3 linked regions of the Homo sapiens genome follow. The protein of the gene in region 1 purifies or fractionates together with the protein of each later gene. This does not show direct contact. Each region holds a gene or a part of one and is shown in the gene's direction. Other genes may lie near its edges. The genes, in order: HSPBP1, HSF2 and DNAJC13.

The links.
Region 2: the proteins of HSPBP1 (region 1) and HSF2 purify together in Homo sapiens (affinity purification with mass spectrometry; 2 studies listed by BioGRID and IntAct, with this or other methods). This does not show direct contact.
Region 3: the proteins of HSPBP1 (region 1) and DNAJC13 purify together in Homo sapiens (affinity purification with mass spectrometry; 2 studies listed by BioGRID and IntAct, with this or other methods). This does not show direct contact.

The regions. Positions count from the first base shown.
Region 1 is NC_000019.10:55,273,458-55,277,110, reverse strand, and holds part of HSPBP1 (hsp70-binding protein 1), read left to right. Parts: intron 1-2,488; coding exon 2,489-2,713; intron 2,714-3,653. UniProt on the Homo sapiens protein: Inhibits HSPA1A chaperone activity by changing the conformation of the ATP-binding domain of HSPA1A and interfering with ATP binding. Interferes with ubiquitination mediated by STUB1 and inhibits chaperone-assisted degradation of immature CFTR.
Region 2 is NC_000006.12:122,406,079-122,409,731, forward strand, and holds part of HSF2 (heat shock factor protein 2), read left to right. Parts: intron 1-3,653. UniProt on the Homo sapiens protein: DNA-binding protein that specifically binds heat shock promoter elements (HSE) and activates transcription. In higher eukaryotes, HSF is unable to bind to the HSE unless the cells are heat shocked.
Region 3 is NC_000003.12:132,423,856-132,427,508, forward strand, and holds part of DNAJC13 (dnaJ homolog subfamily C member 13), read left to right. Parts: intron 1-3,653.

The DNA.
Region 1 (3,653 bases):
TTTTACTCCAAGCAGCAGAGCTCACAGAAGGTTTGAGGAGAGCTCACTTCCATTTGGAGGGGTTGGGTGGTGTAGCAATTGAGGGTGTGGATTTGGGGTGTCACTTCCTTGGTTCATAGTTCAGGCTGTGCTGCTACATGGCAGTCTGGTTTGGGCAGGTCCTGATTACTTCCTCTTGTACGCAGGCTGGGCCGAGAGAAACCCCCAGGCCCGCACAACACCAGGCACAGAGTAAACGTAACGTGTCAGGCCTGGGAGTCAGGTGTCTTCATTTTGGACAGGGGCTGGACGGAGTTTGGGAAGCCCTCCTCTGTGAGCGCATGCAGCACCCCGAGAAGACCTGCAGTGCAGCCGCCACCCTCTAGCTTACCTTTCCCCAGTGTCTCCCCGTCTTATCCGGGCAGAGAACTCCTGCTCCAATCCGCAGGATGGCTTTTAACGACTTTGCTCTTTCATTCATTTTTTGCTTGTTCAGGAAATATCTGTTGAGCAGCTGCTGTGTGCTAAGCACTGTGCTGAGTGTCCAATCATCACAGCAGCAGCAATTTTACACCTTATTAGTAATCAAATGAGAACGAAAGCCAAAGATACCACTTCCTCCCTGGCCTCGTGCGCTCTCTGTGTATATAAATATAAATATATATGTGTATCTTCTCTGTCTTAATGAAGATGCACAGTGCTGATGAAGGTGGGCTGAGGGGAACATCCTCCCATATGACTGTTTATACCACTTACAGTCAATTCAGAATGTTGTGCAACACCACCTCTATTTCCAGAACTTTTCCATTGCCTGCAAAGGAGACCCAGCACCCATTAGGCCGGCCCTCCCCCGGTCCCCTGGCAACCACTAATCAGCGTTTTGGCTGTATGAATTTGCCTGTTCTGGACATTTCATATAGATGATTATAACGTGACCTTTTGTGTCTGGCTGATTGTGCTAAAGGCGGCGTGCCCATGTTGTGGCGTGTGTCAGAGCTTTATTCCTTTTTTTTTTTTTTTTTTTTTTGAGTCAGTCTCCCAGGCTGGAGTGCAGTGGTGCAATCTCAGCTCACTGCAACTTCCACCTGCTGGGTTTCAGTGATTCTCATACCTTAGCCTCCCAAACAGCTGGGATTACAGGTGCATGTCATCAGGCCTGGCAAATTTTTTTTTTTTTTTTTTCTGAGACAGAGTCTCACCCTGTTGCCCAGGCTAGAGTGCAATGGCGCGATCTCAGCTCACTGCAACCTGTGCCTCCCGGGTTCAAACGATTCTCCTGCCTTGCCCTTCTGAGTAGCTGGGCTTATAGGCGCCCACCACCATGCCCAGCTAATTTTTGTATTTTTAGTAGAGATGAGGTTTCACCATGTTGGCCAGGCTGGTCTTGAATTCCTGACCTCGTGATCCACCCACCTTGGCCTCCCAAAGTGTTGGGATTACAGTCATGAGCCACCGCACCTGGCCAGGCCTGGCATTTTTGTATTTTTAGTATATAACATAGCAAAAACCCTGTTTTGCTATGTTACCTGGGCTGGTCTCGAACTCCTGGCCTCAAGTGATCTGCCCACCCTGGCCTCCCAAAGTGCTGGGATTATAGGCTTGAGCCACCACGCCCAGCTGCTTCATTCCTTTTTATGGCTGAGTAATACTCCGTTGTATGGCTAGAGCAGTTTATATTTATCCCTTTATCCTTTAAGGACATTTGGGTCATTTATGAATGATGCTGCCATGAACTTGAGTATATAAGTATCTGAGTCCCTACTTCTGGTTCTTTTGGGTCTGTGCCTTGGTGCGGAATTGCTGGGTCACGGGGAATCTGTATTTCATTTTTTTAGGAACTGCCACGCTCTCCAATACCACTTTATTTACAAAAACAGGAGGTGGGCTGTGGTTTGCTGACCCTGGGGACATTCAGATTGTCACAAAGACCAGGATCAGTCCTGGCATTTAGTAGTCTGGAGCCTGGGGCCCTAATGCCCCAAATGCTGATGGAATCGAGTTGTACTAGCCTTGGGGGGACCTCTGGTTGGGTGTTTGGAGAGAGCTGCGTCCCTGTGGGAGCCGGCCTGGCTCTCCCGGCCTCAGCAGCTGTAGTGGTCAGCTTAGGGCCACCTTAGCCAAGCACCACAGACTACTGGCTTTAAAAACAGAAATGTATTTTCTCACGGCTCTGGAGGCTAGAAGTTTGAGATCAGGGTGTGGGCAGGGCTGGTTTCTCCTGAGCCCCCCTCTCCTTGGCTTGCAGAAGGCATTTTTTGTGTCCTCCCTCCATGTTGTCCCTCTGTGGGTGTCTGTGTCCTCATCTCTTCTTCTTATCAGGACGCCAGTCAGATTGCATTAGGGCCCACCCTAAGGACCTCATTTTACCTTAATGATCTCTTTAAAGATCCCATCTCCAAAAACAGTCACATTCCAAGGTACTGGGGGTCAGAACATCAACCCATGCATTTTGGGGGGCACGGTTCAGTCCCTAACATCTGGCCTCTCTCTGCTCCCCTCTGTGGCACAGACTTCTGCCAGCTGTCTGGCATGCACCTGCTGGTGGGCCGGTACCTGGAGGCGGGGGCTGCGGGACTGCGGTGGCGGGCGGCACAGCTCATCGGCACGTGCAGTCAGAACGTGGCAGCCATCCAGGAGCAGGTGCTGGGCCTGGGTGCCCTGCGTAAGCTGCTGCGGCTGCTGGACCGCGACGCCTGCGACACGGTGCGCGTCAAGGCCCTCTTCGCCATCTCCTGTGAGTGTCCGGGTGGGGCTGGGGACAGGGGTGCTGGCGGTGGGGGGGGGTGCCGGGTGGGCCCCCGGGATCTGCTGGGGCAGAGGGAGAGGCATCTCCTTCCCTCGTTTGTTCCCATGCTTGTTGGACCCCTGCACGGCTGAGTGCTGCGGGCAGAGTGAGTGGCGCACTCGGCCAAACCCCCTGCTAGCCAGGCAGCAGATGTGACCACTTCCCGGGGAGACCACCTGGCCCTCAGCGTGAGCGCTTTGCACACAGCAGTTTTTCAGCTGGGCACTGTTCACACTGGCGCTGGTTCACTCTCTCGGGGGCCGTCCTGTGCACTACAGGACATTGAGCAGCATCTGGTGGGTGGCCTCCAGGCCATGGAGAGACACTATCACCCCACCTGCCAGCGCACAAATGCCCCTAGATGTAGAAAGCCCCTTGGTCAGAACCCCTGCTGTACATGAATTCTTCTTCTTCTTTTTTTTTTCATTTAACCTATATAGAGACAAGACTTGCTTTGCTACCCAGGCTAGTCTTGAACTCCTAGCCTCAAGGGATCCTCCCGCCTTGGCCTCTGAAAGTGTTGAGGTTACAGGTGTGATCCACCATGTCCAGCCACAAATTCTTTTTATCCTAATGGCCTGTGAAGTAGGGACCGTTTGCATCCTCATTTGACAGGGGAAGAAACTGAGGTGTGGGCAGAGGGACACGGCCAGGTTTCTGCAGCTCCATAGGGCAGAGCTGGCCAGGACTCCCCCAAATACTGCCGCCTGGGACACAGGCACCAGGTCGGGCACAGGGACGGGACAAAAACCAACATCTGTGGGGCAGTTTCTCCATGCCAGGTGTTGACTCGCTGAATCCTTATGCACACCTGCTGAAGTTGGGCCCACTGTGTCTCCTCCACACGGGAGGGATCGGGCCAGGGGGTCTGGAGAGGACACACAGAGCC
Region 2 (3,653 bases), on another chromosome or scaffold:
TCTCTCTTTTATCCCCTGCTGACAGAACTTAACATCATGGCACCTAGAAAAAGAAAGATATTTATTTAAGGAACCAAGCTCTATGCTTGTAGAGCAGACAATGAAGAATGAATTTGGAGCAATAAATTGATAACTGGCCCATAAACAGACTAGGATTTGTGAATATTTTAGGTAAGGTGATGAGGAAAGCCTCTCCAAGGAGACGATGTTTGAGGAGAGATCTAAATGATTAGAAAAGATGGGCCAAAGGGGAATGACAAAAGGTAAGGCCTTGAATGTGGCTGTTCAAGGAAGCAGGAAGGCCCATGTGATTAGAATATCTTTAGGGAATTAGGAGAGTGAGAGTAGGGAGGTAGGCAGGAGCAGATGGTATAGGGCCCTAGATCTATAGTAAGAAGATTGGAAATGAGGGGACCAGTTAGAAGACTATCACAGTTTTCCTGTATGGTATTGAAAATATTGATGGCTGAGACTAAGGTAGCAGCAGTCAAGGTATTGAGATGTAGCTTTGAAATCTTTGAAGGCAAAGCTGCAGGATTTGCTGATAAATTGATAAATTGGCTATGGTTGGAGGAACGACAATTAAAAATGATTCATAAATTTGGTTTGAACTACAGGATAAATCCATTTGCTGAGGAAAGATGTTAGAGATTCTTTTTGGCATATTAACTTTGAGATTAAAAATGGATCTCTAGTAGTATTTGAAACAACTTGAAAATTGTTTAATTTTTCTTAAATTTGACCATGCCTAGTCATATGGCCACACCTAATTTCAAAAGGGATGAGGAAGTGCAGTGCTAGAAAAAAAAACAGGAGTATTTTTGAACAGCTTGACTGACTTCCACACTCCAAAATGTCCAAGTGGAAATGTTGAATAGGTGGTTGAGTATAAGACTTTGGCATTCAGGGTGGAGTTTAGACCTTGTAACTGGTAAAGCCAGGAGACTTAATGAAATCATCTTCTGTGAAGATAGAAGGAACCAAAAGATGTATTATTCCAACATTTAGAGAGTATGAAGACAAAAGCCAGCAAAGGAGGCTGAGACGGAACAGTGAAAAAGAAGGAAAATCAAGGGAGTGAACCCACAGAAGTTAATGAAAGAAAATGGCTCAGGAAAGAGATCAACTGTGTCACATGCTGTTAGGAATATTCTTGTATATCTCTCCTGGTGTATATAAGCAAGAGTTTCTCTAAGGTCTGTACACTCATGTGACTTGCTGGGATATAGGATATGAAATGTCTAACCTCAAGATAGTGTGAATTATCTTCCAAAGAGATCACACCAGCTTATTCCGCTATTAGCCATGTATGAGATTTTCTGTTAATCTGCCTCTTCAAAACTGTGTATTAGTTATCGTTCTTACTTTTTACCAATCTAATTGATGTAAAGCATTGTCTCAATGAGGTTTTGATTTATATTTTCTTGATTATTAATGAGTTCTAAAACCTTTTCACGTTCGTTGGCCATTTGTGTTTCCTGTTCTGTGAAATGTTTGTTTTGCCATTTTTCTGTTTTTTTTTTTATTATTTGTGAGAATTCCTATATATTCTACATATTCGAGTTTATGTTTTGGCCATATCTTCCAGTTTGTGGCTTTTTACATTTTAGTTGTCTAGCACCTTTACTGAGTAGTTCTTCCTTTTCCAATGATCTATATTGCCACTTCTATCTTACGTCACAAGTACGTGTAGATATTGTCTTAATCAGTTGGGCTGCCGTAGCAAGATATCATAGACCAGGTGGCTTCAACAACAGGCGTTTATTTTTTACAGTTCTGGAGGTGGAGAAGTCCAAGATGAAGGCAGTGGCCATTTCAGTTCCTGTGTTAGAGCTTTCTCTGCTTTGCAGACAGCTGCCTTCTCTCTGTGTCTTCCCAATGGCAGAGAGAGAGAGAGAGAGAGAGAGAGTGTGTTCTGGTCTCTCTTATCTTATAAGGACACCAACCTAACCTGGGGGGTCCTATCTTCATTACCTCCTCTGAACCTAATTACCTCCCAAAGGCTCTAACTCCAAATACCATCATATCAGGGGCAAGGGTTTCAACATAGAATTTTGGGGGACACAAACATTCAGTGGTTTTGTTTCTGGAGTCTTTATGCCATTCCATTGGACAATTTATCCTGTGCCTGTCTTCTGCTGTCTTAATTACTGTAGCTTCAGAAAAAGTCTTTTGGTAGGGTAATCTATCCTTCAGGAGTGCCTTAAGTATTTTTGGTCTTTAGCTCTTCCACATATGTTTTAAAATCAAGTTCCATAAAAAAAAAAAAAGCCTTTTGGATTTTTGCTGCAATTGGATCAAAACTATATAAATCAGATTAGGGAAAATCGATATCTCTGTGTTGTGTATTCTCATGACAAGGCATATTTCTAAATTCATTTTGTTGATTTATGTTTGCTATTAGGCCTTGTGGATCTTTGTTCATTTTCTTCCTGGATATCTTATATATGTTGTAAATGGTGTTCTTGACTTAAAAATAGATTTCTAGCTGTTGCTGGTAATTAGAAATACAAGTAATTTTTGTATATTGATAATAAATCAGTGAGCAAATCATTTTACTGATTTCAGTTTTCTGAGTACACCCATAGTATCTGTGATTGACATTTATTTTCTTCCTTTCAGACCTTTATGCCTTCCGTTTTTCTTTTGGCAGTAACTAAGAGTGAGTAGAAGCAATTATCATGGCATTCTGGCTTTGTTCTTAATTTTTAAAGGGAATGTTTTAATGTTTCCCCCTTACTAGCTGTTAGAATGAGAGTTTTTAACTTCATTTTTTTTTTTTTTTTGACATCAAATGTTGTCGGGTGACTTAGTGAGGAAGGGACTTGGTAGAATGGAAGACACAAGAAAAGATTGACTTCCGGGGAAACAGGAAATGGGTTTAGAACATACTGAGTTAAAGAACATAGTGTAAAAAATGTTAACATTTTAAATTGAAGTGTGTAATTTGAGATGATCAGGGACAGAGCTGTAGATGTGTTTATTATAAAATAAAGTCAATAATAAGATACCCTACTGTGGATGAATTCTAAGGAAAGAATATGAATGGTGCCACGATTAAGGATAAAAACCTGGAAAATACAGCTACCTCTTATTTGATAGGTGGAAGAAAATTGAAAGGAAATATAAGAGATAAGAGACTCAACAGTGTTTAGCATCAAAGCCCAGAGAGTCGAACATTTAAGGAGGAGATTGTTAGTTGTACCAAATGAAATGCCACAGAGAGGTGTAGGAAGATCAGGACTGAAAAGAGGGCATTGAATTTGATATTTGACATTTTAGAAATCTGGTTTCAGTCGAGTGAGGGAACCAAAAGCAGTTTTCAGTGAGAGTAAGTGGATGGTCCTGAATTGGAGAAGGGGGGTTTAAAATACCTGCTTGTTAAATTTTGCAGTTAAGGAAAAGACAGATGGGTAGATTGAAAAAGAAGGTATAAGAGGGAAAGTTCTTTTAAGATAGGAAAAGACGTATGCATTTTAAGCATTTTAATTTTGATAATTACCTAGTTGCCAATACTGGTTATTGTCAAGGGTTGTAAATTTAATCTAATAAGGGAAAATCATTATTTGTTTTGCTCTACATTCTTCATTTATGAGTCTGGGTCTCTTCTAAATTTCACAATGTGTTTTTCATCAAAATTGTGTTTCTGTTAG
Region 3 (3,653 bases), on another chromosome or scaffold:
TTTACTGTAATGATAGGAAAAACAGCAACAAGTTAAAATATGGCTGCTAAAAATTTCTTTTGCCCATTTCAGGGCCTGTTTACCATAGTAGAGCATGATTATTAAGTGCCTTAATAAGCTGATAAGCTTAATAAGTTGATAAGCTGAAGACCTTACAGAAATAGTATAGTTTGTTCTTGCATAAGCCAGGTTATGCTTCAAAGATAAAATGAAATAGAAATTAGGTCTATAAAGTTACAATAATGTGTATAAACTAAAAATATGTAAATGATCAATAGCAATGATTTCAAAGCATTGCTTAAGTGAACATGTTTCTGGAAAGAAAGCTTTCAGGTGAGTATTTTAAGGCATTTTTAAGCTTTGGAAAGGGAAGGGTCATAGTAATACATCTTTCACAGAAAATTTGAATTTTTTTAACAACAGATAAACTTCTGTTTTGTCAGAAATACAAATTATTCCCCTCAGATGAAATGAGCATACATGTGATAGAAATAGAAGAGACAGGTCTCTTTTCAATACTTGATTTATACTGTTGAATAGAAGAGGTCAAAAAAAGTAACTGCTATGGTAAGTATGCTTGTCCCCTCCTCCCATTAAGTGTTTCTTCAGATTTAGGGGTTGCTTTTGAATTTTTCTTGCCCTGTATTTCATTAATATATACTCAGTTTGTAATAGAAAGGAATCAAGTTTTTAAAAACAATGGTGGAGATCTCATATTATTTCAGCTACCCTATGGTAGTGAAACTAGTTAAAAGTTGATTATGATGTGACAGTACAATCACTTCACTTTAAAATATCTGGGCAATTATTTGAAGATATGATTATCAGATGAAATTTGATATTACCGCTGGCTTTTTTTATTCTTCAACGACATCTATCTCTGGAGGTATCGGGTTCTTCAGTAAGTTAAGGAAGGCTAAGATGGTAGGTACTAAAATCTTTGTGATGTATTTATGGTTTGTTTTAAGATTCCTGTTGGTATCATACATATTACACATACTGATTTGTTGTTCATTTAGAAGAAAATGCTTTTACCTGTACTTGAGTCATATATTAAAATGAAGCTAAAATTTAAAAATAGGGTTAAAGTTCATATGGCAGTTTCCCCCATACACAGCACATTCTATCTAAACAGTTTAGTTGTAGCTATTTAATCTGGGTAAAAATGAACATTCTGTTAGCCATTCATATTTTTTACCATTTGTTTGAAACCAAACTAATCTAGTGCTATGATTTACTCAGATTTTGAATCCAGTTACAAACAAACCTAGATCCTCAAGAAGCCAATATAAGATATTCTATCTATTACTCTTATTAGTTATTTTTTCAAAGGGTTAGTCTTTCCATGGTTCTCCTTACTACCCCTCCCTTTTTGGTAAGATATAGCTGTAGGAAGTATTACGTTCATAAATTAGTTCCTATGATGTGAATGTCTGCTACATTTTAAGTGTGGTTTTGGAATGTAGCATTGTTTCTGTTGTAGGAGAGTTTGATCAGAAAAGGCAAACTCCACAATTTTCACCCAACATATTGTAAACATTTTCACCTACAGCCAGGTTGAAAGAACTTTACATTAGATACCCACATGCCCACCTAAAGGTTTTTACATTAACATTTTACTGTACTTGCTTTATCACAGATCTGTCCATCTTTCCATCAATCCATCTTATTTTTTATGCATTTCAAAACAAATTCACATTTTTAGTTATTGAGGGCAGAGCTAATGAAAGTAAGTTCCGTTCTTGCATTTTACAGACTCAAAATGGGAAAATCAGTAGCTTACCTGTTCTCTGCAAGTTGTCATATTTGTGTAAAAATTACTTCCAGTTGATGATGCTAAATACGTGCTTTAAACAGGTGACTAGCCTGATTAATGCCAATCCTTCTTTCACTAGTGTATTTTTTTCTAAGTGTATTCATTCATCCCTAGTTAAATGAGTGTTCTGCTTGTGTTTTTGCTTAACACAAGCCATGTGTATATACTTAATTTTGCTGTGTGTGTAAATTTTTTTGCTTATAGCTTGACCGTAATTGGCTTGAGTGTCTGTGGTGTTGAGTCCCTTCATCTTGCTTTTGTTCTTAGTGTCAACTTGATGTAGGCTTCTTCTCACTGGACTCCCAAATCCTGTGGTTTTCTGTCAAAATTATGTGTCTTCTAAAAGATCATTCTCATTTTAACCATAAATGATCTTAAATGGTTTGCCAGTATTACTGCCAGTAATAAATTAGAGAATGCAAGAATATTGTGTTGTTCGAAAGCATGATGCAGTAGTATTCATTGAGAGAGGTGAATCTAGCCAAAATGCCTGTGTTGCCCTGAATTTGACTTTTTAACCCATAGGACAGTTCTATAAAAAGAACAAACAGAAGTTTCTTTGGTGGTGTAATTTAGGATATAGCATGAAAACAAGTGAAGCTGACTCGCAAAAATTGGAGATGCTTTCAATGCAATTTAATTACAAAAGGCATGTAAATTTGATTTTTCCTCATCAGAAAGAATCATGGGTCTTTGAGAATTTGAAATATGGAACACAATTGCAGGAATGAAGGAGATGAAATTTAAGTGACGTTAGTTTGAGCAGATAAATTCCTGCTATTTCGAATAGCCTCTAAACAACTGGCAGAATGGCAAATGCTAGTGATACAGCTGCTACCAAGATCTCATTCAAGATCCCATTTAACTGTTTACATTTTTTAGTTGGACAGTTTGTGGTTGTTGATAGCATGTGCTTATATTTGACTGTTACTGATATTACCTGCTTGATACTTGAGCTTCTGATACTAGAAATTTTACAGATTTTTTTCATCATAAATAGTGGAAATCAATGGTTGCTTAAGAGTTTTTGCCTATAAGTGATGATTTTTTTGAATCACTTTTAGAGCTTATTAATGTACAGAGGAAATATTGACTGCAGATTAAATTTATTTTGTGAAGTTTTTTTTTTCTTGAAAGTTTCTCAAGCCATAGTTAATTTGTAGCCATCAAACATAAATTTAAAAATATTAGGTTGGATACATGTAAGGAAACAGTTCTAACAACTGAAATTTCAAATACCTAAGTGGGGAATATTAAAAATGTAGTAAATAAGATTGACTTGTAATAGTATTTTGTAGGAATAAAGTTGAAATAAAAGACAAGCTTAAGTGTTGGGTTATAGTTGACAAGATGATTTTTAAAAATTTCATCTATCCTGATTATCTTGGTGTTTATATATACATATGTGTGTGTGTGTGTGTGTGTGTGTGTGCACGTGTGTGTGTGTGTATATATATATATATTTTTTTTTTTTTTTTGAGACAGGGTCTGACTCTGTCTCCCAGGCTCGAGTGCAGTGGCAAGATGAGGGCTCGCTCACTGCAGCCTCAGCCTCCCAGGCTCAAGTGGTCCTCTGACCTCAGCCCCCCAAGTAGCTGGGACTATAGGCCTGTGCCATGACACCCAGCTAATTTTTTGTATTTTTAGTAGAGACAGGGTTTTGCCATGTTGCCTGGGCTGGTCTTGAACTCCTGGACTCAAGCGATCTGCCTGCATTGGCCTCCCAAAGTGCTGGGACTACAGGCGTGAGCCATCGCACCCGGCAATATTTTTTTCTTTTTAAAAACGTTTTATGGGAAACATAAATTGTAACAATAAAATAATAATGACAGTAACA